3 linked regions of the Homo sapiens genome follow. The protein of the gene in region 2 interacts with the protein of the main gene of each other region in a pairwise test. Each region holds a gene or a part of one and is shown on either strand. Other genes may lie near its edges.

Region 1 (9,819 bases), on a different chromosome or scaffold from region 2:
CAGGACCCACTTTTAACCAGGGTGTCAGTGTGAAGCCAGGTCCCCGTGAAGCTGGCGGAGGGTGGCCCTGAGCAGCCCCAGCCTTGTGCGTGTTCTCAGGTGCAGTCTTGCACAGGGGCCCCTGCCTGTCAAGACTTACACTGCACCTCTGCCTTTATCCCTCTGCACCCTCTCTCCGTGGGGGCATCTCACCTGCCTTTCCCTTGCAGAATACTTTCCGGACCCCCGTCTACACCACCTCCATGAGAAGGAACGCCATGGGAGTCGGCTTGGTTTTTGAAGCTGATCTCTTTACCACGAGGCACATTTCTCACTGGGTGCTGCAAGGAGTATGCCTCACCCTGAATTCTGATTAACCTTTGGGTGAAGAAAACTGCTTAATGAATTCGGAGCCTGGGGTTGTCAGAGTGATCGGGTCTGCTGTCATTTCTTGGGGCCTCTCAAGAGGCAGGAGGGGGACTGACACTGATTTTTCATTTGAAATCAGCCACTTAAATCTCTTTCCATACAAATTAACCTGAATGGTTTTGTTTTTAATACTACTTTTTAAAAGGAATTTATATAATCAAAAAGTAAATATTGGAGAGTATTTTAAGATGTGTGGAGTTTTCTTTTCCTTCTCAGAGAAAACACTTGATTAGGCAAAAGTGCCTGGCATACATAGCATTGGCACAAGTGAGAATCCTAATGTAATTTCCAAAGGTGTGTTTTCGATGATCCAGGTCTGTTTCAGCAGATGCTCCTTTTTGGCAAGAAGGGCTGATGATGTCGGGCACAGAGCAGAAGTGACCAGTCACCTGGAGCCACTTCTCCCCCTTCCAGAACTCTCTGGCCCTAGCTTCTTTGGCTCTGACCTGCTACGGCGACTGTGAAGTTGTTGAGCTTAGTGTTTAGTTCCTGCATGAGCTTCTACCCCCAGCCTGCCTGGGTCTGTGTGGGGTCAGGTAAGGACACAGAACCTCCAGGACCAGTGGTCACTGGGCACCCCTTCCCTCTGTGCACCATGAGGCTGGCCTGGAGCCCTGGCTGGCCACCTGGAGGTGAGGGGTGGCTTCACTCCATGAGGGAGGAGAGGGGCTAGCACGGGCAGCACAGTGGGCAGGGGCCATCAGAGGCAAAAGCAGCTTCCCACAGAAGCTCAGGAGCGCAGCACATTCTAAGGACTAGCTCTGGGCCGGGAGGAGGCCGGAGTCGCTTCTGGGACCTGTGATTGCTCTCCCTCCTGCAGTCTCCTAGCCCTCCTTCAGGTGTTTGTTTAATAAAAGACACAAAACAGAAGGAAGGCAGGTTTAGAAAATAAAGTTTGTTGGGATCTTAAACATTTTGGATAAAACTAACAAAAAAATATGAACACACATTCAGGTTGTGGTGCTATGAGGAGTAGCGTCATCTTATTTAGTTCCTTGAGATACACGCACGGCTGCTCGGTGATCGGTGCCGCCCTGGGAAAGGTTGGTCAGGAGGTGACAGGGGTCTCCAGGAGGAGCTCGGGAGGTGACAAGGGTCTCCAGGAGGGAGCAGGGGCTGCTCGGCCAGGCTGCCCTGGAGCTTGAGGATAAGGTCAAGGTTGGTATGTGTTGCTCCGACTTGAGAATGAATTAGGTGTGTGACTGTGTGGCATCGTGAACATCAGTAGTGACGCAGCCGTGGCCTGGGCTTTGCCTGCAGCGCACTTAGGTTACACGGAGCGGGATCAGAAGCAAGCGATTCGGCACACAGGCGTTTGGCCACAGCAATTAGGAAATACATATTCTGCGGCAGGGACACGATCATATTTTGGTGTGAAGAAGAGGGCAAGAGAAGCAGAAGGAGAATGGGTCGGTAGGTGTGAAAAGTGTTTGGCATGCATGGGATTAAACAGAAAAGGTGTGGCTGAGATTTCCCAGTGGTGCTCACAGTGCATGGACAGCGCGGGGTGGGGCACGGCGGGCTTCACACAGTTCTGTCCGTCCCTGAGTGCTTCCTCACCACCTTGCCTCCGTTCACCTGGTCGACCGCCAGGGTCTTCACCTCGGGCTGGGCCTGCGGCGGGGTGGCGTGGTGGATCCGATGTGCCACCCCGACGTGGGCCTTGTGCGGCTTTTCGCGGGCCGGGCTGTGCTGCTCGCCGCTTCGGTCGGAGGCGATGGGGGGGATGACGAGGGGCCTCTCTTTGATGAGGTGGACCTCGGCGGACTCCCTAGCCAGCAGAAATGGGGTGGGGTCGGGCATAGCATCCACTGGTTCCCGCAAAAGGAGTTTCCTGCTCTCTGCCCCGAATCTGTAGACCTCTTCAAATTCCGGGTGCAAGGGGGCTGAGAGGCTCTTTTTCATGCGGCGGCGAGGCGTTTCGGGTAGCTTGTCTTTGGGGGGCGCTGGCTTGTAGCTGGCCAGCACGGGGCTCCCTGACGGGCTGGCATCTGAGGTCCCGCTGGAGCTCATGAGCTTCTTCTTGGCGGCGTGCAGCTGGGAGGTCAGGTAGGCGATGGTGCTGGCCCGCTGCTCCAGCTCGCTAGACAGCAGGGTCAGCTTGTGACTCTTGGCCTTCAGCTCCTCCAGGTACTTCTTCTCTCGCTCCTTGATGGTGTTCTCCAGCACTGTGATCATCGCGTTTTTCTGCTCCAGTTCTTTCAACAACTCAGCATTTTCGTTCTCTTTCACTTTCAGTTGGGCTTCCAGCTCTTCACATCTTTTCTTTAATTCACTGCTTTTAGAAGTCCCGTCTCCTACAAGAATAAGCCGAGGAAGCAGGTGAAGAACTCATTAGACTGAGGCCGAGTGGTGAGGCCTATGGGGCAGGCGGACCTGTCTGGTGGGGGCCCTGTCTAGGCTGTGGGGGCCATGCAGAAGGCAGGGCTGTGGGGGCTCTGGAAAGACCCCTCCCCTCCCCGAGGTGGGGAGATCGGGGCATCTCAGAGGCCCTTTCCGGCTCTTAGTTCTCTGGCCTACTGCATAAAAGAATGTCTCTGAACCTTAAAGATGCTGAACTTAAAACAGGCAATTGCAGAGTATCAGACCTCAGCAAACACTTAGGATTCAACTGGCCGCAAATCCCTCTGTCTGCTCAGATGGCATTTATGGAATGCCTGCTACATTCAAAGTACTGTTTTGAAACTCAAATGTAAAAAGAATTATCCATGTCTATTGAATTAAAATTCTGATGTTTAGAGGAGAAGAGGTGTGGGGCTGTCACCTTTGCTCTGCCGCTGGCCGCCTCTCTCACCCCCCTACCCCCGTCTCTCTCACACACACACACACACAGACTCTTTCCCACTTCCTGCTCAGAGAGTGAGCTGTCTCGCCTCTGTGGCTCTTACCCTTGGTCCCTCCCTGCCCCTGCCCTAACACTTCGGGCCTCTGCCTCCTTTTGCTGTCCCTGGGTGCCTGCCCTCACCCAGTCCTTCAGCAAACACCAGCCACCTCCTTCTCCTGCTCTTCTGGTGACCTGCAGTCCCTGGTCACCTCACATAGCACCCTTGGCTCTAAACCCTGGGTCACCATCCTACTCCTCCTAACGCTGGCTGGCTGGCCATCCTCCTTGCCTGGCCCCTGGGAAGTTCTTTCTAGACTCTTCCTTGCTGGTCTGGAATTCAACTTGAGCATCAGCTCCCGATTCAGTGTCTCCTGAGCACCACTTCTCCAAGTGAGTGTCCGTCAGACACACCCTCAAGTCCAGATAGCTGCTCTGCTTCCCACATCTTGACTCTCCCAGGGAAACTGGATGCAGTCGCCATCCCTGGCCTCCCCTCCCTGACTGTGCCTTTCTGCTGGCTGCTCAGTGCTGCCCCCTCCCTGCTCCTCCAGCCGGCCTTGGTCCCACCTCCTCTCTGGTCTTCGTTTCAGCCCATCCTGTATTTAGGAAGCTTGGTCACCCCCTAAATATTCTTGTCCTCTGTTCAAAATGGTTCCTCACTGCCTAATAAAACCCAAACTGCCAGATGCCTTCCAGTTCCTCAATCTGTCCTGAATGTTATCTGCTCCCACATAAATCAAAGCTTCCATCACTCTCCCCAAGCCACCACCTCTTGTTCTGTCTCTATTGTACCCTCTGTCCTTGCCCTAACTCCAGACCTGCACGCCCAGTTTCCCTGTACCAACTCCACCACCCAGGGCCTGCCTAGGCACTGGACGCCACTGGACGTCTTTCCCGGGCTTCTGTCTGTCTTGCTTTGAATTTTCCCACCTGCCTGAGCTAGCAGCAGCTCTGCAGCATGTCCCGCCGCCAGACTCTGAGCTTTTGAGGGCCCACAGCTGACTGGACTGGTCTTGTGCAGGACACTTGCATGTTACAAGCTCGCTGCAGGTGATGGGCGCTCCTCGACTTAGCATGGGGTCATGTCCCGAAAAATCCAATGTAAGTTGAAAATACCGTAAGTCAAAAGTGTGTTTTCGATATTTTCAGCTTACCATGGGTTTATCTGGACATATCCATGGTAAGTCGAGGAGTGTACTGAATGGGTATTGCCCCATGCAGTTGAAAAATTTTAAGTTGAACCATTGCAAGTTTCTAGTTTTAAAAACCATGTGTCTGTGTGTGTATGTGCAGGTATAATGTCAGCAAATGACCTCCCTAAAAAGGATGCATGCAGTACTACCTTTCATGAGGTTTCTTCTTTTGCCAAAAGGAAAATAGATCCTAAAACACAGTTTCAGAGGTAGAGAGAGGGACAGAGACACACACACGACTCTGTAGACACTGTAAGACCCAGGAGCCCAGCCACCTGGGCTGAACCCCTGCAACCTGAAATGCTGACCTGGGCACGGCATTGGGCCTGGTACCCGCTGTCCTTCCCCCAGGGCCTGTGGGACAACAACCCATGCCTGTCGCAGGGCCTTTGCTTTCAGCCCACACTCGGGTGGACAGTGGGCCTTGGGCTCCTTCCGAGGAAGGGCTGCAACCTCAGACCTTCAACCACATCCCTGGCCTGCTGTGAGCATCCTGGGATTTTTCTTCCCCCAGGCAGTGCTGCAAAAGGCTGATGGACGTTTGGAACATTCAGGAACAAGGCTGTCCCTGGGCTTTGCTCATGTCCTGTGAGGGGCAGCCCACAAAGGCAGAGGGCCCTGGTGGTCGGACTGGGGACTTGGATTTGTGGGGCACCTGTCAGATGAAGATGCAGGTTCAGAGATGTCAAAGAACCTGCCCAAGGCCACACAGCCCCTCCGAGTCAGAGCAGAGGCCCAAATCTGGGGCTCATTAAGCATCACTCTGGTTCTTTTCGCCACAGCATCCTGAGAGAAGCTCCTCCTGGATAGACATCCTCCTCATCATCCTTCCTTGAGAGTCATCTAGCTGTGCTGCCTCCTCCTCCAGGGTGCAGCCTTGGCTCCGGGCTGATGTTTACCGGCCCCGACTTGAGTGGGCCGTCCTGTGGGAAGGAGCTGGTACGACTGCTCCTCCATCCCCAGCTCTGGAGAGCTGCTTCAGTGACTGTCCTTCCCAGGAATCAGCACCTCCTGTTTTGCCAATTTCTTGCTCTTTATAGAAAGCTCCACTCCACCTCCTCCTCTGTACGTACCCCCTTTCTGGAAATTTCAGTCTTCCCATGAAAGCTTGGTGCACACTGAGCTGACAGCAGCCAACTGCTGCTGGTCTCCAAACGCTGCACTGCTGAGCCTGCCCGAGCGTCAGGGCACTGCAACGCTTCTAAACCTGCGCACTCCCTGGGCCCGCCCAGACTTCTGGGGTCACAGCCCCCAGGGGAGGGAAGCCAAGAGTCTATGCTGTACCCTGGGTCCCGAAACTGCTTGGAATTGGGCAGTTTTGGGTGCACTAATGTAAAACAATGATTTTCACCACTGGGAGGGGAGACGCCCCGACTGGAACCACCTGAGAGGCTTTTGAAACTGCCTCCCCTAAGACACAGCCCTTGCTGTGAGACCCTGCTGCTGCTGGGAGTACTACATCAGGTGGGTGGGTGGGTGGGCAGGTGGCCTTGGGACCTCAGGTTGAGAACCGTGACTGGAGAGGCCACAGGGCAAAACTATGCTGCTTCAGATTAGCCTGGGCCAGGAGAGGACAGGGAGCGAGGACGCCCTGGCTTCCATGACACGGGTAGCTCCTTTCCCAAGGCTTCAGTGCTGGCAGGTGTGGACGCTGGAGGTCCCTAGTGTCAGGCTGAAATCCTGTTCCTCTGCATTCCCACAGGCCCAGCTCCCAGTCCCAGGGCTTCGGGGGAGGTCCCTGGTATCCCTCCACAGGGAGACTTCTGAGGACAGGCTCCCATTCCACCACCCCAAGAAGCCCACGGCGCCTTCCCTACCACACGCAGACAAAAAGATGTCTGGGCTCCTGGGTGGCGCACTCAGGAGGCTGTAATATGAGCAATGCAAATGGAAAAAAATCAGTGCTCGGTAATCCACTAAGGCTTGGTGGAAATGGTCTGTGTCTTTTACAAGGAACTGGACACTCTCATGAATAGTAACTGCCATTGTGAGGCCTGTTTAGAAAAAGGCATTGTGGGGAATGGAGAAGTTCTTCAAAGTTTCTTGAAACCATAAAGAGCTTGTCATTTCCTTGCTCTATGTATATCTCTATATATGTTCCAGTGTAGCTGCTCCGCCTTGCCCCGGCACGCCTGCGCAGGGCTGAGCGAGCCCTGGACCATAGTGCATGCTCTTCCTTATTTGGAAACTCTCCTGACCCTCTCATGACTAGCTTCCTCTTTTCTTTGTCCTCTTTCCCTTTTGCCTATTTAGGAAAGTTTCAAGCTGTTAGCCAATCGGGTCAAGCTTAGAATGTGAGGTCCCATTCCAGTCAATGGAAACTGGACACAGTCATAGGGCAATTGCATCAGGTTATGAAGATTATAAATGTCCTCGTCTCCTTTGTTTGAGTGTGCTCTCGTGGTAAGACTGCTGGCGAGTTGCACCCTTTCTGCAGAAAGTAAACTAGCCTTGCTGAGCCATCCATTGCCTTCCCGACGTGATAAACCCGTTTCCAACAGGTGTCTCTGCACAAACATGGATTCAGCACTTTCCAAACACCCACCCTGTTTTAGGGAGCAGGCTCTTTGCAGCAGGCACAGAGGGCCCTGGGAAGGCCTGGGTTTCTGTCTCTTCTCTGGCGGCCAGCAGGCAGCTGCCCTTTGGGGTTTCCTGAGGTCCTGGAGGATTCTGGTTTGGGGAGGGTTCTGGGGCTGTAGTCCAGAGAAAGCCCCAGATCCTCAGGGAGCTGTCTAGTAATGTGACCACTCGCCCGCCAGCATTTAGCAAGCTGCTGCTCTGTGCCAGGCCCATGCTAGGCGGCAGCGACACGGAGGAGCGGGGGCGGTTCTGCCCAATGCTGCTGCTGCTGTTACTCCTCCTTTTGGGTTTAACTCACGTCTATTTTTATGTCCTGATTACACAAGGAACACATGTTCATTGTAGGAAAATCAGAAAAACATATAATAGGCATTCCAAATATATGTGTCATTCAAAAGAAAACAAAATCACTCATCCCCCTGCCCACTAATAACCACTTGCAACACGGAGGGATCCAAACATCCTTCTCATCTTCTCTTAGAGAGCTCAGGCCACACGCATAACTCTTCCCAGCAAGAGCATTTTCTCCTAAGTGTGTGACTAGTGAAAACGGCACCAACACGTACCACAAAGGGAAACCTACTGTCATTTACTTCTGGGGAGGAGTTCTTACCTGTCTGTTCCGAACTTTTGACTGTCAGCTCATATGTTAAATCTAAAAGGGAAATGTTACACATTAATTCTTTTACTGTACATTTCAAAATCTTCATCAGCTTTGAAAATGCAAAACCGATTCCCACGATTAGCCAGCGAGTCCTACCCAGACAGAGCAGGGTTTGGCAGCAGGAGAGGTGAGCATGAGAGCAGCAGAAAACATCTGCGGCCACTGTGCTCCCTGGGGTCAGAGGGCACCCTCTGTTCCCCCAAACTCCCTTCCCCATTCCCCCACAGCATATCCCAACCATCCAAACCAAACAATCCAGCAGCTGGCTCTATGTATCACACAGGCTATATCTTGGTTATCAGTTCCAAAACACATTGGAGATTCTAACCATTGTATTTTAATCTCTTAAGTCCTCAGTATGCCAAGAAAAGGCTTTGCAGCTTTATGCTTAGTGCATCTTGATTATGCAATGAGGATGATATAAGGCATTCAGATGGACTCCTGCAACGATGATGGGAGCTGGGGGCAGGGCAGGCCTAGCACATTCTGACGCTGGGCTCTGCCGTGCCCCATAGCCGCCCCCCGCCTGCCCGGGCCTGCTCCCCGATGTACCTGTGCAGTGCTGCTGCAGCCGCCTGATCTCGGAGTGCAGCCCCTTGAGCGTGCTGGCATGCTCCCGCTGAAGGAACAGGAGGTTCTTCTGTGCGCTGTGCAGCTGGTTCTCCAGGTTTGTGGCTGCCATGCTGACATCCAGAGGACCTGTGGGTAACACAGACCCTGGCTGCGGTGCCTGAAGAGGGTCCCAGGGCTGCCTGCCCTCCTTGGCTCTGGGTGCAGAGGGGTGTGCGCCTCCCAGGAGAGAGCAGAAGGAAACCACGGCTCCTGAAGGGCAGGGTGTGGGGGCACCAGGGCTACATTCCCATCACTGCAGGGAGGCCCCAGGCCAGGGACGGCAGCCTCTGCTTCCCGAACGCCTTGGGGTGTGCCCTAGCACCTAGCACGATGCCTGGCACATGAATGAGTGAGGCCCACTCCAGAGTACAAAGTCATTTCCCTTTACTCATGAGGAAACAGATCAAGAGAGGCAGATTCGCGAGCCTGGGGTCACACAGCCAGTGAGGTATGGAGCAGGGATTCTAATCCAGGGACCCTTGGTTCCAAATCCTGTCCTCTCCACGCACCACCTCACCCCAACAGACTGTGACTGACCAAATCACGCCCAAAAGATTTCCCTGACCAGGAAGCACTGACAGCTTCCTCATGGGAAAAGCTGGCACCTGGGAAATGGGCCAAACATTTCCTCTAAATGGCATCTGGAGCCAGCCAAAGTAGGAGGGAGAGATGGGCTGAATTCCAGAGGGAAGCCCCCTGCACTTCACAGCACTGAGAGGAGCCACAGATCCTTCTTGGGAAGGTCTGAGAACGTATCTCATGGGGCCAGGGGGTGGTGCAGGTGTCTGGAGTCTGTCCCCAATGCTTGGCCCCTCCCAGCCCCAGCTTCCAGCATCTGATGCTCACTCAGGGCCCCAGACTCTACCTTCATCGTAACTCGAGAAATGTGGTGAAGTCATGGGTCTTTCTGGAAAAGCTACCAGAGTAATTCAAGACGCTTGTACAGCACTGAAAAATACTGAGGATGAAATGTGAGTTATTTGCTTATAAATTATTATTGTAAATACAGAACCTCAGAATGCATTTTCCCTAATTTGCTATTCCAGAGAACCCTCCGTAAAGGAGGTACAACTTCTCAATGGCTCCCAGGACGCAGCCCATTTGTAGGATGCCACAGTGGAACCGTTTTGGAGACACTGACACACCCAGGCTGTCACTGCTTCAGACGACACCAATTGCTCATCAATTATCTGTACGACCAGTGACATGCATGCACACTAGCTCTGGAGCTAGGACGAGTTCATAACGAACTTCAGACATACACTTTCATCACACGAAAACACTTCCTGGGCGCTGCTCCGGTGGAAAGCCACAGACTCCACTCCGAGGGCAACCTGAGAACGCAGAGAAGGAAATAAAACACGACGGAGCTCACGAAGGGGAATGAACAATGATACATCCTAAAAAGGACCAAGAAAAAGAGAAACAAGAGGCCCTTTCAGTTGGGGACAAAAACTGGCAGGAGAGGGCAGTGGCCCCAGGACACGGCAAGTACAGTCTCGGGGGGCACCTCACCACGGGCAGTGATTGGGCAGAGC
Region 2 (10,113 bases):
AGAGCTCCTGAAGGAAGCACTAAATGTGGAAAGGAACAACCGCTACCAGCCACTGCAAAAACATGCCAAATTGTAAAGACCATCGATGCTATGAAGAAACTGCATCAACTAATGGGCAAAATAACCAGCTAGCATCATAATGACAGGATCAAATTCACACATAACAATATTAGCCTTGAATGTAAACAGGCTAAACGCCCCAATTAAAAGACACAGACTGGCAAACTGCATAAACAGTCAAGACCCACCAGTGTGCTGTATTCAGGAGACCCACCTCGTGTGCAAAGACACACATAGGCTCAAAATAAAGGGATGGAGGAATAGCTACCAAGTAAATGGAAAGCAAAAAGAGGCAGGGGTTGCAATCCTAGTCTCTGATAAAACAGACTTTAAACCAACAAAGATTAAAAAAGACAAAGAAGGGCATTACATAACGGTAAAGGGAGAAGAGCTAACTATCCAAAATATATATGCACCCAGGAGCACCCAGATGCATAAAGCAAGTTGTTAGAGACCTACAAAGAGACTTAGACTCCCACACCCCACTGCCAATATTAGACAGATCAACGAGACAGAAAATTGACAAGGATATTCAGGACTTGAACTCAGCTCTGGACCAAGTGGACCTAACAGATGTCCACAGAACTCTCCACTCCAAATCAATGGAATATACATTCTTCTTAGCACCACATAGTGCTTATTCTAAAACTGACCACATAATTGGAAGTAAAACACTCTTCAGTAAATGCAAAAGAACGGAAATCATAACAAACAGTCTCTCAGACCACAGTGCAATCAAATTGGAACTCAAGATTAAGAAACTCACTCAAGGCTGGGTGTGGTGGCTCAGGGCTGTAATCCCAACACTTTGGGAGGCCGAGCCAGGAGGATCATGAGGTCAGGAGCTCGAGACCAGCCTGAAAAACATGGTGAAACCCCGCCTCTACTAAAAATACAAAAATTAACCAGGCATGGTGGCACACACCTGTAATCCCAGCTACTCAGGAGGCTGAAGCAGGAGAATCGCTTGAATCTGGGAGGCAGAGTTTGCGTGAGCCAAGATCATGCCACTGCACTCCAGCCTGGGTGACAGAGCAAGACTCTGTCTCAAAAAAAAAAAAAAGACAAGAAAAGAAAAGAAACAAGTAAGTTCTTTGAAACCAATGAGAACAAAGACACAATGTACCAGAATCTCTGGGACACAGCTAAAGCAGGGTTTAGAGGGAAACTTACAGCACTAAATGCCCACAGGAGAAAGCAGGAAAGATCTAAAATCGACACCCTAACACCACAATTAAAAGAAGTAGAGAAGCAAGAAGAAACAAATTCAAAAGTTAGCAGAAGACAAGAAATAACTAAGATCAGAGCAGAATTAAAGGAGATAGAGACACAAAAAACCCTTTAAAAAAATCAATCAATCCAGGAGCTGGTTCTTTGAAAAGATTAGCAAAATAGATAGACTGCTATCCAGACTAATAAAGAAGAAAAAATAATCAAATAGACACAATAAAAAATAATAAATGGAATATTACCACTGATCCCACAGAAATACAAACTACCATCAGAGAATACTATACACACTTGTATGCAAATAAACTAGAAAATCTAGAAGAAATGGATAAATTCCTGGACACATATACCCTCCCAAGACTAAACCAGAAAGAAGTTGAATCCCTGAATTGACCAATAACAAGTTCTGAAATTGAGGCAGTAATTAAAAGCCTACAAATCAAAAAAAGCCCAGGACCAGACAGATTTAAAGCCGAATTCTACCAGAGGTACAAAGAGGAGTTGGTACCATTCCTTCTGAAACTACTCCAAACAATAGAAAAAGGACTCCTCCCTAACTCATTTTATGAAGCCAGCATCATCCTGATACCAAAACCTGGCAGAGACACAACAAAAAAAGAAAATTTCAGGCCAATATCCCTGATGAACATCAATGTGAAAATTCTCAATAAAATACTGAATCTAGCAGCACATCAAAAAGCTTATCCACCACAATCAAGTCGGCTTCATCCCTGGGATGCAAGGCTGGTTCAACATACGTAAATCAATAAACACAATCCATCACATAAACAGAACTAATGACAAAAATCACATGATTATCTCAACAGATGCAGAAAAGGCCTTCGATAAAATTTGACACCCCTTCATGCTAAAAACTTTGAATAAACTAGGTATTGAGGGAACGTATCTCAAAATAATAAGAGCTATTTATGACAAACCCACAGCCAATATCATACTGAATGGACAAAAACTGGAAGCATTCCCTTTGAAAACCGGCACAAGACAAGGATATCCTCTCTCACCACTCCTATTCAACACAGTATTGGAAGTTCTGGCCAGGGCAATCAGGCAAGAGAAAGAAACAAAGGGTATTCAAATAGGAAGAGAGGAAGTCAAATGGTTTCTGTTTGCAGATGACATGACTATATATTTAGAAAACCCCATCATCTCAACCCCAAATCTCCTTAAGCTGATCAGCAACTTCAGCAAAGTCTCAGGATACAAAATCAATGTGCAAAAATTATAAGCATTCCTATACACCAATAATAGGCAAACGGAGAGCCAAAGCATGAGTGAACTCCCATTCACAGTTGCTACAAAGAGAATAAAATACCTAGGAATCCAACTTACAAGGGATGTGAAGGACCTCTTCAAGGGGAACTACAAACCACTGCTCAAGGAAGTAAGAGAGGACAAAAACAAATGGAAAAACATTCCATGCTCATGGATACGAAGAATCAATATTGTGAAAATGACCATACTGCCCAAAGTAATTTACAGATTCAATGCTATCCCCATCAAGCTACCATTGACTTTCTTCACAGAATTAGAAAAAACTACTTCAACTTTCATATGGAACCAAAAAAGAGCCTGTATAGCCAAGACAATCCTAAGCAAAAAGAACAAAGCTGGAGGCATCATACTACCTGACTTCAAATGATACTACAAGGCTACAGTAACCAAAACAGCATGGTACTGGTACCAAAACAGATATATAAGCCAATAGAACAGAACAGAGGCCTCAGAAATAGCGCCACACATCTACAACCATTTGATCTTTGACAAACCTGACAAAAACAAGAAATGGGGAAAGGATTCCCTATTTAATAAATGATGTTGTGAAAACTGACTAGCCATATGCAGAAAACTGAAACTGGACCCCTTCCTTACACCTTATACAAAAATTAATTCGAGATGGATTAAAGACTTAAATGTAAGACCTAAAACCATAAAAACTCTAGAAGGAAACCTAGGCAATACCATTCAGGATATAGGCATGGACAAAGACTTCATGACTACACACCAAAAGCAATGGCAACAAAAGCCAAAATTGACAAATGAGATCTAATTAAACTAAAGAGCTTCTGCACAGCAAAAGAAACTACCATCAGAGTGAACAGGCAACCTACAGAATGGGAGAAAATTTTTGCAATCTACCCATCTGACAAAGGGCTAATATCCAGAATCTACAAAGAACTTAAACAAATTTACAAGAAAAAAACAAACAACCTCATCAAAAAGTGGGCAAAGGATATGAACAGACACTTCTCAAAAGAAGACATTTACGCAGCCAACAAACACATAAAAAAAAAGCTCATCATCACTGGTCATTAGAGAACTGCAAATCAAAACCACAATGAGATACCATCTCACATTGGTTAGAATGGCAATCATTAAATAGTCAGGAAACAACAGGTGCTGGGAGAGGATGTGGAGAAATAGGAATGCTTTTGCACTGTTGGTGTAAGCATAAATTAGTTCAACCACTGTGGAAGACAGTGTGGTGATGCCTCAAGGATCTAGAACCAGAAATACCATTTGACCCAGCAATTCCATTACTGGGTATATACCCAAAGGATTATAAACCATTCTATTATAAAGACACATGCACACATATGTTTATTGCAGCACTGTTCACAATAGCAAAGACTTGGAACCAACCCAAATGCCCATCAATGATAGACTGGATAAAGAAAATGTGGCACATATACACCATGGAATACTATGCAGCCATAAAAAAGGATGAGTTCATGTCCTTTGTAGGGACATGGATGAAGCTGGAAACTATCATTCTCAGCAAACTAACACAGGAACAGAAAATCAAACACTGCATGTTCTCACTCATAAGTGGGAGTTGAACAATGAGAACACATGGAAACAGGGAAGGAAACATCACACACCGGGGCCTGTCAGGGTTGGGGGCTAGGGGAGGGATAGCATTAGGAGAAATACCTAATGCAGATGACCGGTTGTTGGGTGCAGCAAACCACCATGACACGTATATACCTATGTAACAAACCTGCATGGTCTGCACATGTATCCCAGAACTTAAAGTATAATTAAAAAATAAAAAGAAAGAAAAGAAAAACCCATTTTTTGAGGAGAAATTCAAGCTAGCTGCAAAAATTTTCATATGTAACAAGGAGCAGAATCTCCAAGACAATGGGGAAAATATCTCCAGGACATGTCATAGGTCTTCATGGGCAGCCCCTCCCATCACAGACCCAGAGGCCTAGGAGGAAAAAATGGTTTCGTGGGCCAGGCCCAGGGTCCCCATGCTGTGTGCAGCCTAGGGACTTGGTGCCCTGCATCCCAGCCACTCCAGCCATTGCTAAAAGGGGGCAAGGTACAGCTTGGCCCATGGTTTCAGAGGATGCAAGCCCCATACCTTGGCAACTTCCATGTGGTGTTGAGCCTGCGGCTGCACAGAAGTCAAGAACTAAGGTCTGGGAACCTCCGCCTAGATTTCAGAAGATGTATGGAAACACCTAGATGCCCAGAAAAAAGTCTGCTACAGGGGTGGGGCCCTCATGGAGAACTTCTGCTAGGGCAGTTCAGAAGGGACATGTGGGGTCAGAGCCCCCACACAAAGTCCCTACTGGGGCACTGCCTAATAGAGCTGTGAGAAGAGGGCCACCGTCCTCCAGACCCCCAGAATGGTAGATCCGTCAATAGCTTGCACTATGCACCTCAAAAAGCCGCAGATACTCAATGCCAGCCTCGGAAGGCAGCTGGGAAGGGTTTGCCTTCTGGCTGCATTGCTGTACCCTGCAAAGCCACAGGGGCGGAGCTGCCCAAGACAATGAGAACCTACCTCTTGCATCAGCGTAACCTGGATGTGAGACATGGAGTCAAAGGAGATCATTTTGGAGCTTTAAAATTTGACTGCCCCACTGGATTTCAGACTTGCATGGGCCCTGTAACCCCTTTGTTTTGGCCAATTTCTCCCATTTGGAATGGCTGTATTTACCCAATGCCTGTATCCCCACTGTATCTAGAAAGTCAGTAGCTTGTTTTTTATTTTACAGGCTCATAGGCAGAAGGGACTTGCCTTGTCTCAGATGAGACTCTGGACTGTGGACTTTTGGGTTAATGCTGAAATGAGTTAAGACTTTGAGGACTGTTGGGAAGGCATGATTGGTTTTGAAATGTGAGGACATGAGATATGGAGGGGCAAGGGGTGGAATGATATGGTTTGGCTCTGTGTCCCCACCAAAATCTCATCTTGAATTGTACTCCCATAATTTCCACGTGTTGTGGGAGGGACCTGGTGGGAGATAATTTGAATCACAGGGGCCATTTCCCCCATACTGTTCTCGTGATAGTGAATAAGTCTCCCGAGATCCTGATGGGTTTATGATGGGTTTCTGCTTTTGCTTGTTCCTCATTTTCTCTTGCTGCCACCATGTAAGAAGTGCCTTTCGCCTCCTGCCATGATTCTGAGGCCTCCCCAGCCATGTGGAACTGTAAGTTCAATTTTCTTTTTCTTCCCAGTTTCAGGTATGTCTTTATCAGCAGCATGAAAATGGACTAATAGTGTTATCATGAGGTTTAAATTATTTACTACTAGAAAAGGTGTTTGCATACTATGCATTGCCAAGTAAATATAAGTGACCCAGGGCCAAGGTGGCCACTCTCATGGAGTCCCGAGAATGACCAACTGAGGGGGAGCCCAAAGGACTGTTTTGCTGACTCCCCCCGCCTCCCCCACACAGGGCTGGCAGGCCCTTCCCAAAGCTCCTGACCTTCTCCAGGTTCTTGCGCATATCTTCCAGGGCCTTGATGCCTGGTGGGTCTTTGGCCACCTCCTGCGCACTGGCCAGCTCATGGCGCCAATGCTGCTGGGCAGCTTTCAGAGCTGTCTGCCGCCTCCGCATGGAGCGTGTCTGCTGCACAAGGAACTCCTTGGCACTACGGAGGGCTACCCCCTCAGCAGAGAGGAGGTGCCAGACATTGTGGGAGGACAGGCTGGAGCAGGAGAGTTGAAGAAGGAAAACAGAAGCCTCTAAGAACTCTGCTCTGGGTCACACAGCCCCTTCCCCAGCAGATGCCAACCCTGAGCACAGACCAGAGCTGCTGGGCTAGGGCTGGGCACTGTGAGTGCAGGGATGCCACTGTTCAATACCCACAGTGCGCAGTGCCTGGGACTGACAGTGCCCCCACCCTGACTCTGAGAGGGATCAGGCCTGGGGCCTCCAGATAGATGACCAAACACTTCCAGCAATCTGCTTCTCCACTAGAGGAGAATGCCATGTCAAAGGTCACAGTGGGCAGTTTCTTGGCTTGCCAGAGAAGATTCCTTAATCCTCCGGAGCCTTCCCCATGAACTAAGCCCCACTGGTGATCACCGTCTCCTCACTTCAGCTCACCCCAGCTCTATGATGCAGGTACTCACTTACCCCTTCATGGTACCCTAACCTCAAATAAGACAGGCTATGGGAACTCACCTGTCCAAGTATAAGTCCTCCTTGCTCTGGGAGAGAGAAGAAGACACCTCTTTGGTCTGGTTCTAGGGACACATGGTAGAAAAGTCCACTGAGTGTAGCAAAAGCAGACACCCTGCAGGTTCAAGACCCCAAAGCCCCTCCCAGTGGTCTAGACAAGGAAATGGCTCTCTAGCTGCCAGGCACTGTTTACTTATAGATATCATCTGACTGGTGGAGACGACTGGTAGCTGGGAATAAGAACAGACCAGGTCCCATAGAGAACAGAGCCAGCCCTTCCTGATGCCTTGGCCCACCTTATACTCCTCCCCTCCTGAGGCTCCACCCCTCCTGATGAGCTGTCCCCTCTGGAAGTACTCCCCTGATGCCCAGCCCCTCCCAATGCCCCACACCATCCTGGTGCCCCAGCCCCCAGGCCCCAGCCCCCAGCTCACTGTTCCAAGGGATTTCCTCAGGTCCTCAATATGGAGATCTGGCTCAAAATGTGGGGAAGCATTATTTTCCTCAACTGTCACTTCTCTCAACAGGTGCTGCTTCTTTTGAGCTTCAGCCTCCAGGCTGCTGTGGAAGGAAAGATGAGTGAGAGGCAGGGCAGCGGCTGGCGATGGGGGGGAGGGGTGAAGTGGGTCAGAACCATCTCCACCCCCTCACTCCCATCCGTCAAAGTCCCTGAGGAAGGGCTCAGGCACGAACAATAGCACCAGAGATCCCCTGCTTTTCACAGAATCTTAACAACCCCAACTCCCTACAAAATGTAGCCACAGGCTCTTCTGCCTAGCTCCCAAGCTGGGACTCCACCTCTCCCTATTAACTGGGCCATGACACAAGCAGCAGAGGTCAGAGGGCAGGCAGGAGGCAGCCAGCAGGGCTAAGTGCAGGGTGCCCACGCCACCTGAAGTGTTTCTGCAGTTGCTGGCTCTGAGCCTGCAGCAGATCCACTTGGGACTCCAGCTTCAGCTTGCGGGCCTGCAGCTCATCAAGAATTTCTCGGAGCTGCTGGTTTGACTGCAACAGGTGGGTGTGCTCCTTCTGTGCCTCCTCCAGCTGCTGATGGGTGGCTGTGGCTTCCTAGGGGCAAAAGGAAAGATAGAAGCACCCAGAGACAGCACAGAGAGAAGCCAGGGAGCAGACAGCACGAGAGGGTAGGGAAGCCAAAGGAGGACAGGCTGGGAATGAATTCAGAGCCACTGAAGTCACCACCTCTGAGGTCAAGAGGTCTGCAGGCTCCTGTCCTACCACAGTCCCACTCCCTTGAGGTTCCCAAGTGGGGTCCACAGAGTGGCACTATTTGTGGAATACTGGCCAACAGAGTTTGGAACCCCAGTGCCCTGGACAGATCAGATGAACAAAATGTGGGGAACAGGGAGAAGAAAGACAGGAAATGGAGGAAGAACAGGAGGGAGGACAAAACAGGGAGACAAACCTCACTCTTCAGAGCAACCTGCCTCTGCACATCAAGCAGCTGCTGCTTCTCCCTCCGGGCGGTCTCCTCCTTGCAGGGAAGAGACAGGATTTTCTGGCTGACTGCAGACCCCAGGTCTGAGGGGCAGAGCCTGCCCTCTGCTAGAGAAGCTATGACTCTGAGGTCAAGGACTCCTGCAGATCCCTCACCTGGACCTCCAGCAGAGCCAATCTGGCCTTGACATCTTTAGCTCTGGTTTCAAGGTCCAACTCTAAATCCTGGAGCTTCCTTTCCTGCCCAGAAAGGGAAACACATAAGCATAGAAAGAGTGTAAGGCATTAGCTGAGGGGCAGGAGGGGGTTCCAGAACCCACCATGCCACACCACAACCTCCACTCTGGGCTCAGGCTTCCTCGCTGTGTGCCCCTGCAGCCTCCCAGGAAGGCTCCACACCTTGTTTACTTCCTGCTGGGGCAAGGAGACGCAAAGGTGCCAACCCCAATGCCTTACAGGGGCTGACCTCTAGTTCTAATCCTGAGTGTGTTCCCTGGCCCAGAAAACAAAGTAACAAGGATGCCCCAGCTTGGAGATGGCCAGTGAGAGACTCTCACTCCAGAAGCTGTCAGGCTGCATCCTGCTGGGGCCATGCGTCTGCTCCCAGCACCTTCCTACTGTGCATGGAGGGGTCACAGTGGGCTCACCCTGCCCCAGGCCCCTCACCTGCTCCCTGTGCCGGCGCCGCAAGTCCTCAAGACGCTTGTGTTGCTCCTGCCTCACAGTCTCCAGTTCTCGTTCATGGGCCCTCTGCAGGCGCTCCAGCTCTCCGGTCAGGTGCCCCAGAAGCTCAGCCCGCTGCTTCCTCTCCTGCAAGGAGGGTGGGCCCACCGGTGGGAAGCTGCGGCAGCCCCTTCTACCACAAAAATCACAGCTCCCCTAGCCCTGCAGCCTTGCATCAGTAAGATCAGGGACACCATCGGCTCCCTAAAGCCAGCTCTTGGAGAAGAGGAGGGTTACAAGCACAGCACCGGCCCTGGCCCCAGCAAGCCTGCAGCCCTCTAGAGCTGAAGCAGAGGCTGGTCAGACACCACGACAGATTCCCTTTCTGGCTCTCCCTATGGCTCCACCATATACAACTTTTCCTCTGTAAGGAATGAGAGGTCACTGATAAATTATCACTATTCTTCAGCAAGGTCATAATTGGTTGGGGGAAGGGATATGGCAAATTTCATCATGGGACTGCTATTTCTGCCCTGGGAAAGATCCTAGAAAGAGTCTGGGATACTGGTTCCAGTTACTGGAGCAGTAGTCTTAACACCCTGCAGGGTCCCAGCTGTGGGCTATAGTCAGCCACCCTCTACCCACCCATTGTTCACCCTCAATGTGAGCAAGGCAGGCCAGCTTGGGTAAACTCAAGTCGCTGAACTTTCCTACCTTAAGACCAAAGGCTTAAAATGGGGAGAATATCAGTATTACTTGGCTCTTGCCAGTCTATTTCTTGGTGTCCCAAGATGTTGAGGAACCCTGGTGACACAGCATTGCAGTGAGGAAACTGAAGGCTTTGGAGTCAGATGGCCTGGGCTTGAATCCTAGCTCTTCTACTTATTGGCTGGGTGTGATCTTGGGAAGCTACTTAAACTCTCCAAGTCTCAGTGCCCTCATCTTTAAAATGGAGACAATGATAGTAGATCCTTCCTAAGGCTGGTGTGAGGACTAAATGAGTTAAAATAGATAAAGAGCTCAGAACAGTTCTTGGCACACAGTACAAGCTCAATGTATGGGGGTTCTTTTTACTATCAGAAGAAAGTACAGCCTGCCTGATAAAAGAGGAATTGCCCCCCATTAGGTGGAGGTTTTTCTCATGTTTTAATAAAAAAGGCAAAAAACATCATCGTGGCAGGGTACCAGGAAGGAAAACCTCCCACAATCCCTGACCACAGTTTATCCCCTTCCTCTGCCCCACAGCCAGGTGGGAAGGACC
Region 3 (10,054 bases), on a different chromosome or scaffold from region 2:
TTTGTTTTTGATACAGAGTTTCACTCTGTCACCCAGGCTGGAGTGCAGTGGCACAATCTTAGCTCACTGCAACCACCGCCTCCGGGTTCAAGCAATTCTCCTGCCTCAGCCTCCCAAGTAGCTGAGATTACAGGTGCATGCCACCACATCCTGCTAATTTTTCTATTTTTAGTTGGGATGCGGTTTCGCCACGTTGGCCAGACTTGTCTCCAACTCCTGACCTCAAGTGATTCAATTACCTACCTTGGCCTCCCAAAGTGCTAGGATTACACGTGTGAGCCACCACACCCGGCTGAAAAATGGTGATAAAACTTTTAGATATTTTTGAAACTGAAGCACTTGGAGGATCAAGAAATTTAAAAAGACTTTACAAACTTCATCTATAATATATAACGTGGAAAATTCAATGTTGGAAAAATATGAACAAAATATAGTCTTTCAATGATCATATGGCTAGAACAAGATGATGGAAACTGCAACTCCATTTTTTTAAAGGCAACTACTTTGAAACTGCAGAAAGAAAAAGACAAATATAAAAATATTAATTATAAAACCATTTTGGTAAAAACATATATAATGGCAAATATGTTTTCTAATTCAAACATTTTAAAATGCTGATTCTTGTTTTCAATAAAGATGTTAATTCTCTGTTTAAAAAAATAATGATTCTGAAAACATGGTTAAATCTCGATAGCTTACCAAAGGAAGCTAAGAAGCTACTTAGTAACTTCCACTCTTTAGGAGGCACTATTACATCCCAGATTCTTTTCAAAGGACACTTAAGTTTTTCACATTGGGAAGCTTTACCCTAACTGAAGTGAAAGCAAATTCCTATATACAATAAAAAACAGCTATAAACACTCCAAAACACCAAGGATTATAGAGACAAAGGTTAAAAAAAAAATCACAGGAAAAAAAATCCAAAATGTTCACAAAAGTTTGTAAGTACTATATGTTCACTTAAGCATCAAGAATAAAGTCACATGACATTAATGAAAATATACTAAGAAGGCTATTTAAAAATAACCAACTGAAAAGAAGAAACTATCTAGCAAAATTGACATTCATATTATGTTATAATATAATTTCAATCTGTATTATAAACCTATAATCAAGGATCACCAGACTTTAATGAGGCAGTTTTGAGTAGTAATATGTGTTGTCCTTATGCTCAAAATTTAGTTCTAAAAAACTGAATTTTTTCATATGACCTTAAAGGCTCTTTCACCAAATATGTACGATATTTAACTTGAAAGCTTTCAGTACTTTCGGCATAAAAGGTTCTATCCACTGAAGCCTGGGGAAAAAACTTCCACTACCACACATTGTTTACAATATGCTGGATGACAAAAAAAAAAAAGACTAGGAAATAAAACTAAATAAAATGTATTTAATTTCAAAAATCCATAAATATTGAAGGTATATTGCAATATTACTAATCAAACAGAAATAGCTCCAGCTACATTTTGAGTGTCTCTCAAAAACCTCAATAAGAACAAAAAATGAATACATGACTAGAGTAATTTTGAGTAGCATACCCTCAAATTGAAAACACTGTTTGCTATATATTTGTAAAAGAATATTTCCTATAGGATTTTTTTTTAAGTGTGGAAAGAAGTAAGCTATAGCTATATTTTCCATAATTCTCAAAGACTTTTTATTTTACTGATCAACACAGTCCTTACTAGATCAATAATGATCCTAAACACTTTCCCTTGTCATAGATTTGTATTTATTTATTTATTTATTTATTTCAAGAGATGGGGTCTTGCTCTGTCACCCAGCCTGGAGTGCAGTGGAGCGATCACAGATCACAGCAGCCTCAACCTCCGATCCACCCCCTCAGTCTCCCTAGTAGCTGGAACCACAGGTGTGAGCCACCATGCCCGGCTAAATTTTTGTTTGTTTTTTGTAGAGACAGGATCTCCCTGTGTTACTTAGGCTGGTCTCAAACTCCTGGGCTCAAGCGATCCTCCTGCCTTGGCCTCCCAAAGTGCTGGGATTACAGGCATGAGGTTTTTTTTTTTAAAGCAGCAAACATTTATTATCTCACACAGTTTCTCAGGATTCGAATCTGAAAGTGTCTTAGGTAGGTGGTTCTGGCTCAGAGTCTCTCATGAGTTGCAATCAAGCAGTCATCTGGATATGTTACTTTTTAAAGTTATAAAGCATATAAAAAAGTGGCTGCCCCCCACCAAAGTGAAATTTAAATTCCATGATCACAGCTAACTCGGATCTGTAATATTCATTTACTTTGAAAAACCAATAACTTATCATTGCCACATTTTTAGTGCACTTTTTAGAAGTAAAATACGCTCGAAAATGGTCTAAATTATGCAAACTTCCCTTCTAGTATTACATTTAAAGATACTTGAAGCCCCACATAATTGAGTTCAATTTGCTAAAGCAAATGAGGTCTAACCTCTTGAAGATTTCCTGAAGTATTAAAATAATCAACACTTAAAATCAAAAGAAGATACAACAATCTAAAGTCATATATAATGCAATAGAGAATTTACTAAATTATGTATTAACCATAGTACAAGATAATGAGCAAGATATATTATTCTCAGCCCCCTAACCAATGTACAAATTTGCATCAACTTGATATTATATATTAAATTAATGAAGTTATGGACTTTAATTTCTTCTGTGTCTAAAACTGGAAGAGGGAAGAAAGCATTTCCTAACATTCTATCATAAAAGAAAAATGTTAAGAGAAACTTTCCTTTAAAACCATGCTTCATATGTCCCCTTCGGTGTCTTGATAAAATGTTATCATACAGGAAAACATAAGCTTCTAAATCAAAGATTTCCTTCAATGTTTTCAATTTGCATAGATCACAATATAACACACACATTATTTGAAACATTTTTTGACTTCAGACAAATGCCTCAAGATTAATCATATTAAGCTATATTTGTCATCATTACTGCTTCTTTATTTAAAAAAAAAAAGGAAATAAAGCAAGCAATACATAGCATTCAATTCCCTTGATAAGTTAAAATCATTTCCCCCTTCTATCCCCAAATGAACTTTATTCTATTCCATTTAGCCAAAGGTACACAGCCAACACATCTTTGTGTTATACTGTGGCAAATCAGGGTTTAGATACCAATGCAACTATTATCAATGGCTCAGAACCAAACATTGTTAACAAAACACACTGAGTGGATCCTCCCTCTGCGTGTGTGTCTACATGTGCCCATTCATAACATGACCCTCCTACACACACAGAAACTCAATTTCTACTGAATTACAAAACATCTTCACATTATTAGAAGTGTATAATAAAACTGTCCTCTTTAATGTTCAAAGAAAGAATAATTTCTAAAGCGATGAGAGAGAAGAGTTAATACCAGGATTGCTGCTACCCATCAACTTTAATTCAAAGCAAAGTACAACTCAATGTCATTTTTACCTCTACTGTAGCCTCGACGGATACAAAATTAACTTCGCTGTAGAATAAAGTATCCTGGCATCCCAATGGATTATTTACTTCTCCGATTTGACAGAACATATACGTGAGTCTTTTGTCCCTCCCACAGCATCCCAGGGTGTCAACATCATCTCTGCCACAGCAAATGACGAGCAAATCCCTCAGATCATTACTTCAGCACCCTAAGTACAAGAAAGTCGCGGCCTTCACTGTCGTTACAACACAGCAAACAGATTCAGTAGTCCCATGTTCCTTTCCATGATAGTTGGGGAGGCGGGGTGGGAAATAAGCGCTCAGATTTCCTAGGAATCCTTCGTGTTCGGTGCTGGTACCAGAAGTGGCATGGGTACAAGTGATATGTGGGTCACCCACAGAGAGAGACGCAGAACGAAGCTTCGTGACCCTCCAAGTTCAGTGAAGACACCCAAAGCCTGGGGCAAAACGAGGCGGCAGCCTTCGGGGAAATCGGGCAGAACCAGAACGATCTCCGAGATGGAGAGTGACGGGGTCTGGCACGAGCCCCGGGCTTGCAGCGAACTGAAAGTCCCCGGTACCCCTCCCCTCCTCAGCAGGCTCGGTCACTCGGCGAGGGGTGCGGCCGGAGGAGGGGGTCGAGACTGGGGGAGGGCGGCGCCCTGGGGGGTCGGGGGGTGTGTCCTACCTGGGCCGTGGCGGACGCAGGGGTTTCTGGAGGAGGGCTCTGGTCCAGCTCAGGACCGGGACCGGCGGGGGTTAACCCTCGGCAGGCGGGACCGCCACTGCCTGCCCATCCCCCACCGCCGACTGCGGCGGGACCCGAGCGCGGCTTCCAGGGCCGGCCGGCTGGGTAGTCCCCTGGGGTACCGTCCGCGTTTACTGGCGGCGGCGGCGGCGGCTGCTGCTGCTGTTACTGCTGCTGCCGGCTCCCCCAAGCCGCTGCTCTTGTGCCAGCACCTGCTCCCCCTCCTGCCGCCGCCGCCGCCTCGTCCCCACCGCTCCCATCGCCGCTGCGGCGACTACTGCAGAGCCCGCTGACCCGACCCGACGTTATTCTCCCCCCTCGTAACCCGACACAGCCTAGCCCACCTGCCCTGCCAGCGCGCACGCCCACCTCTCCGCTACAGGTGCTGATTGGAGAGTGCGTTCCGAACTCGCAGCGTCGGTTGGCTAGTCCCATTGCCTATCACGAAGGGGGCGGAGAGTCGGGCAGAAACCGTCTCCGCCCCCCACCGGAGAATTGCCGCTATCTTCAGGTTTGCCTGAGAGGGCGAGTTACCGGGAAAGGAGCATCACAATGGCAGCGCGCATGCGCCTAGGAATTCTGGGCCTCGTAGTTCCAGCCATAGCCGCAACTCCCCGCCTGTCCCGAGGAGAGAAGTAGGGCTTCCGAGACAAGTAGTTTGCGCACATAGGTGTTCTCCTAGCGTGACAGTTAAATTGGTTATAGAGGGATGGTTGGGACCCCATGGTTGGGCTTTTCGGAATAAAATCGGAAATGCTTTGTCACGATACGAAATTACACACTGAGGCAGTCGCGATGAAGGGCCCAAATCGTGAGGCCCTGCAAGCCTTAAGGATCCATCCTCTTCCTCAGCATCAGCGCTGACAGCATCCCGCAAATTGGCGCCGTCCCCAGAACCGCCTAACGTGAAGCTAATCATCTTTGGGGGACTGGGGAAGGGCCTTAGGTGTGACGAGGAAAGGAGATGGGCACTTCCATAAACGAATGTCAACTTGGAGACCGGAGTGTCCTTACGGTTTCACAACCCAAGAACAAGATTTCATTCCCTTTGTGAAACACCACCAGCTAAAGACTCAATGGCCAGCCCCGGTGCACACCAGTATGCGATGCTGAGCAAGTGTATGCGGGAGGTGCTCAAAGACTTTCAAAGAAAAGCGAGGAGGGCGGAGCAAGGACGCTGTGCAGGATGCGTTTCTATTTAGTGTTGTGTCAGTCGCTTTGGCGAAGGAAAACCTTAAGATTAAGCACCTCTCCCATCTTTGCCCACCAGTGTACAGTAGAGAAAACACATGAAAAACGCTAAACAGCTTTCCTAAGGCTATAAACTAATCAGTGGCAAAACCAAAACTCAGGTCTCTCATACGCCCCACATCTAATGTCCTTTCTACTTAAGAATCACAATGATCCCCAGGGTTCTGCCATGAATGGAAAGAATGTAATGAATTATGAACTTCATTTTTACTTTAAATCCTTTTCTTCACTCAAGTGACATTGTCATTAAAGCTGATTAAGAATATAGAAAGGTAAATGACTAATCCTATATTCAATCTTGGAACTGTTCCTATAGAATCTGTTTCTTCTTGCTCAGGAAGTGCCACAGCCTCTTGCCATTCTTTTTAAAAACAGCAGGCATCTCTACTCTCTGTCATGTCCAGATCCTTGGATTGAAAGCAGGACAAAATGTACATTAAAGGCAAGTGATGATGCAGCTCATCTTGTTCTATGCAAACATAAAGATGTTGCCAAATTGTTTTTTATTTCTACTGATTAAAACCACACGTTACTTTTTCTATTACTATGTCTAATAGAGTACTTCATTCATTTCAGAGTATTGACCAATCACATAATTTGAATAAGAAAACATTAGGGTTTCTGTAAATATTTTTCTTTAAAATTAAAGAAGTTTATAGGGGCCAGGCACAGTGGCTAATGCCTGCAATCCCAGCACTTTGAGAGGCTGATGTGGGAGGATCACTTCAGTCCAGGAGTTCAAGACCAAACTGGGCAATGTAAGGAGACATAAGGAGACTCCTTCTGCACACACACACACACACACACAAAATGATCACGGAAGCATGGATTTAAAATTTTTTTTAATTAGCCGGGCATGGTGGCATGCCCCTGTAGTCTCAGCTATTCGGGAGGCTGAGGCAGGAGGATCGGTTGAGCCCAGGAGTTCAAGACCAGCCTGGGCAACATAACAAGACCTTGTCTCTACACACAAAAAATTTTTAGTTAGCCAGCCCTGTCTCTACTAAAAATACAAAAATTAGCCAGGTGTGGTGGCATGCACCTGTAGTCCCAGCCACTTGGGAGGCTGAGGCAGGAGGATTGCTTGAGCCCTGGATGTCAAGGCTGCAGTGAGCTATTATCGCATCACTGCACTCCAGTCTGGGCAACAGAGATACCCTGTCTTTAAAAAAGAAAAAAAAAAAGTTTCTAGGGAAAAAATGTCCAGATTCATTGAAATTAGGCTTAGCAATAAAAGCCTCCCCTTTTCTCCAGTCTTTTCCATTTTAGAATTATTGAGCTGTCCCCAGAGATACTCTTTCAGTCAGGCTAAATGTCAATGTAATATGTTATTCAAGAGCTGGTACTGGAGTTTAGGAATCCCCTTTGAGTTATAGATATAGATAGATCTCAAGTATATATATAAAACTCAAATATATATGCATGTATCTCTTTTAAGAAATAAACTGAGCATAGTGGCTCACACTTGTAATCCCAGCACTTTGGGAGGCCAAGGCAGGAGGATCTGTTGAGCCCTGGAGTTGGAGACCAGCCCTAGCAACATAGTGAGACTCTGTCTCTACAAAAAATATATATTTTTAATTAGCTGGCCCCTGTAGTCCCAGCTACCCAGGAGGCTGAGGTGGGAGGATTGCTTGAGCCCAGGAGGTCGAGGCTGCAGTGAGCTATGATTGCATCACTGCACTCCAGCCTGGGTGACAACGCAAGACTCTGTCTCTAATACATAAATGTGGTAGCCAGACTTCCAGATGGCCCCCAATGATCCCTACCTCACTTACTCTCATTCTTATTTATTCCTTTCCATACTGAATTGGACTGACCTGTGTAACCAATAGGATTTTCCAGAAATTATGGTGTGGGAATATCAAGGCCAGGTTATAACAGACATTGTAGCTTCTGCCTTATGTGTTCTTGGATCACTTATTTAGGGAGAAGCCAGTTGTCTTCTCCTGAAGATACTCTAGCAGTTCCATGCAGTGTTCCCCTGGCAAGGAACTGAAGCATCACATCAATAATCAGCACCAGTTTGCCGTCTATGTTAGTGAGCCATTCTTAGAAATGAATCCTCCAGCCCCAGTCAAGCCTTCAGATGACTGAAAGCCCAGCTGGCTTCTTAACCACCACCTTGTGAGACACTCCAAGCCAGAACTACCCAGCTAAGCCACTTCTAAAATGTGTTACTATATCACAGAAACTATGTGATATAGTAAATATTTACTATTGCTTTAAGCATTAATTTTTGGGATAATTGGTCATGCAGCAAGAGATAACGAATACAGTAAGACTTGGGAAAATAAGAGAGAGGAATAACTCAAGTCTAAGGATGTGTCCCTGGATAAGTCTAAAGGAATCAGACAGACTCTAGGATCAGTCTTACAGCATATTCAAAGATACAATGTCCAAAGTTCAGACATTAAAAAGTCCCCACACAGGACATAAAGCCCCTTTTAACACAGCTTCTTTTCTCCTAGCATGAAATAAATAACATATTGAAGAATCTCTTTCTTCTTTTCCTTTCCTTCCATTTATGTCCTCTTCTGCCTATCTTTAGGTACCACTTTGTAACCTTCTTCCCATAATCCAAACAGAAAAGGATCTAGATGTGTCATTTACATCACATTGTTATTAGGACAGCACCACAGTGTGAATCAGTGTGCAACTCAAGGAAAAGAGACCTCTGCCCTTTTCTCTTTCTATCTCTCTCTTTAGAAACAAATCTCAGAGTTGCACATGAGAAGTGGGTAAATATATGTTATGTTAATTATATCTCAATAAATCTCTTTTTTAAACTCATTACGCAGTGCTTTGAAACATGAAACTCAATAGTGAACTGGTGCTCAAGCATTTCTGCAAACCAGCAAGCAGCCCTGTTTTTCAGTTTTTCAGCAAATAAGTTTCTATTTGAATGTTACTTAATCCACAAACAAAATCCCCATAAACAAGTTTTTTTGTTTTTTTCTGAGACAGAGGCTTGCTGTGTCACCCAGGCTGGAGTGCAGTGGGCGCAATCTCGGCTCACTGCAAGCTCTGCCTCCCGGGTCCATGCCATTCTCCTGCCTCAGCCTCCCGAGTAGCTGGGACTACAGGCACCCGCCACCATGCCCGGCTAATTTTTTAATATTTTTAGTAGCGATGGGGTTTCACCGTGTTAGCCAGGATGGTCTCAATCTCCTGACCTCATGATCCGCCTGCCTTGGCCTCCCAAAGTGCTGGGATTACAAGCGTAAGCCACCACACCCGGCCCCCATAAACAAGTTTTTATAGAGCCTACTAATGCCATCTACTCTGATAGGCACTGGGAAAGCAAATTTGAATAAATTCAGTCCTGTCCCTCAGGGTTTCACAATGTAATGATTAGCAAACATGCAAATCTTATTAGAATACATTGTAATAACTGCTATAAGAGAGGTATACAGCATATAAAGATACTCAAAGGCCAAATCCTTGGGGTTCTCTGAGAGCTTCATTTCTTTAAGTCAGTATCAGCTGCATTCTGATTTCGACAGAAAGGCATTCACATCAAATATATTCACTACCTCAAGTGTTTGTGTTTTTGAAACTTTGTTCTTTTTTTTTTTTTTTTTTAGTGAAAATTTTACTTTTAAGTAAAAGACTTGATTTTTTTTTTTTTGAGATGGAGTCTCACCCTGTCACCCAGGCTGGAGGGCAGTGGCACGATCTTGGCTCACTGCAACCTCCACCTCCCAGGTTCAAGCAGTTCTCCCGCCTTAGCCTCCCAAGTAGCTGGGATTACAGTCACCTGCCAGCACGCCAGAATAATTTTTGTATTTTTCGTAAAGACGGGGTTTCACCGTGTTGGCCAGGTTGGTCTTGAACTCCTGACCTCAAGTGATCCATCCTCCTCAGCCTCTCAAAGTGCTGGGATTACAGGCGTGAGCCATTGCGCCCAGCCTTGATTTATTTTCTTTTTTTTTTTTAAACAGAGTCTTGCTCTGTCACTCAGGCTGGAGTGCAATGGCACCATCTTGGCTCACTGCAAGCTCCACCTCCCGGGTTCAAGCGATTCTCCTGCCTCAGCCTCCCAAGTAGCTGGGACCACAGGTATGTGCCACCACACCTGGCTAATTTTTGTATTTTTAGTAGAGACAGGGTTTCGCTATGTTGGCCAGGCTGGTCTCGAACTCCTGATCTCGTGATCCGTCTGCCTCAGCCTCCCAAAGTGCTGGGATTACAGGCATGAGCCACTGCACCAGGCCCTGATTTCTAATTAAAGAAATTTCAAGCAAAAAGAATTAGGTAAGAGAAAACGGTGTTGAGCGGGCAAGGCAAAAAACTCTCAATTTGGGAGATATGAGTTTATCGCCTTTTAACCTATTGATATCAATTTGTGTTTAATGATGATGATTAAAATAGACCGTAATATCAGAAAAGATTGACATTGATTAGACCTAGTAAAGTGAGAAAAGAAACTAAAAGAGTTTACATTCACAAAGTAATTCTAATTGTGGTTATTTCTTGATCTGCTTCCTGTTTAGGCCTTTTATGAAACACAGAATAATTATATCATTAACTGTTAACTTTTTGCAGGTTTTATTAGAAGAGTGAATTATAGCTACACATATTTGCTCATATTTTTGTTGCAAGGTCATATATATATATAATTTTTTTTTTTCAGAGATGG

The links.
Region 1: the proteins of CEP164 (region 2) and CCDC92 interact in binary tests that used the Homo sapiens proteins (3 or more experiments, as listed by UniProt).
Region 3: the proteins of CEP164 (region 2) and TTBK2 interact in binary tests that used the Homo sapiens proteins (3 or more experiments, as listed by UniProt).

What each region holds. Positions count from the first base shown.
Region 1 is NC_000012.12:123,935,126-123,944,944, forward strand, and holds the end of CCDC92 (coiled-coil domain-containing protein 92), read right to left. Parts: intron 9,616-9,819; exon of another isoform or gene 9,544-9,615; intron 9,240-9,543; 5' UTR 9,181-9,239; coding exon 9,147-9,180; intron 8,369-9,146; coding exon 8,222-8,368; intron 7,661-8,221; coding exon 7,619-7,660; intron 2,706-7,618; coding exon 1,933-2,705; 3' UTR 501-1,932; downstream 1-500. Other genes in the region: DNAH10 (dynein axonemal heavy chain 10), read left to right, coding at 210-356.
Region 2 is NC_000011.10:117,393,236-117,403,348, reverse strand, and holds part of CEP164 (centrosomal protein of 164 kDa), read right to left. Parts: intron 9,000-10,113; coding exon 8,856-8,999; intron 8,430-8,855; coding exon 8,346-8,429; intron 8,227-8,345; coding exon 8,158-8,226; intron 7,803-8,157; coding exon 7,627-7,802; intron 7,296-7,626; coding exon 7,169-7,295; intron 6,800-7,168; coding exon 6,738-6,799; intron 6,259-6,737; coding exon 6,036-6,258; intron 1-6,035. UniProt on the Homo sapiens protein: Plays a role in microtubule organization and/or maintenance for the formation of primary cilia (PC), a microtubule-based structure that protrudes from the surface of epithelial cells. Plays a critical role in G2/M checkpoint and nuclear divisions.
Region 3 is NC_000015.10:42,916,337-42,926,390, forward strand, and holds the start of TTBK2 (tau-tubulin kinase 2), read right to left. Parts: upstream 4,443-10,054; 5' UTR 4,102-4,442; exon of another isoform or gene 3,522-4,101; coding exon of another isoform or gene 3,423-3,521; intron 1-3,422.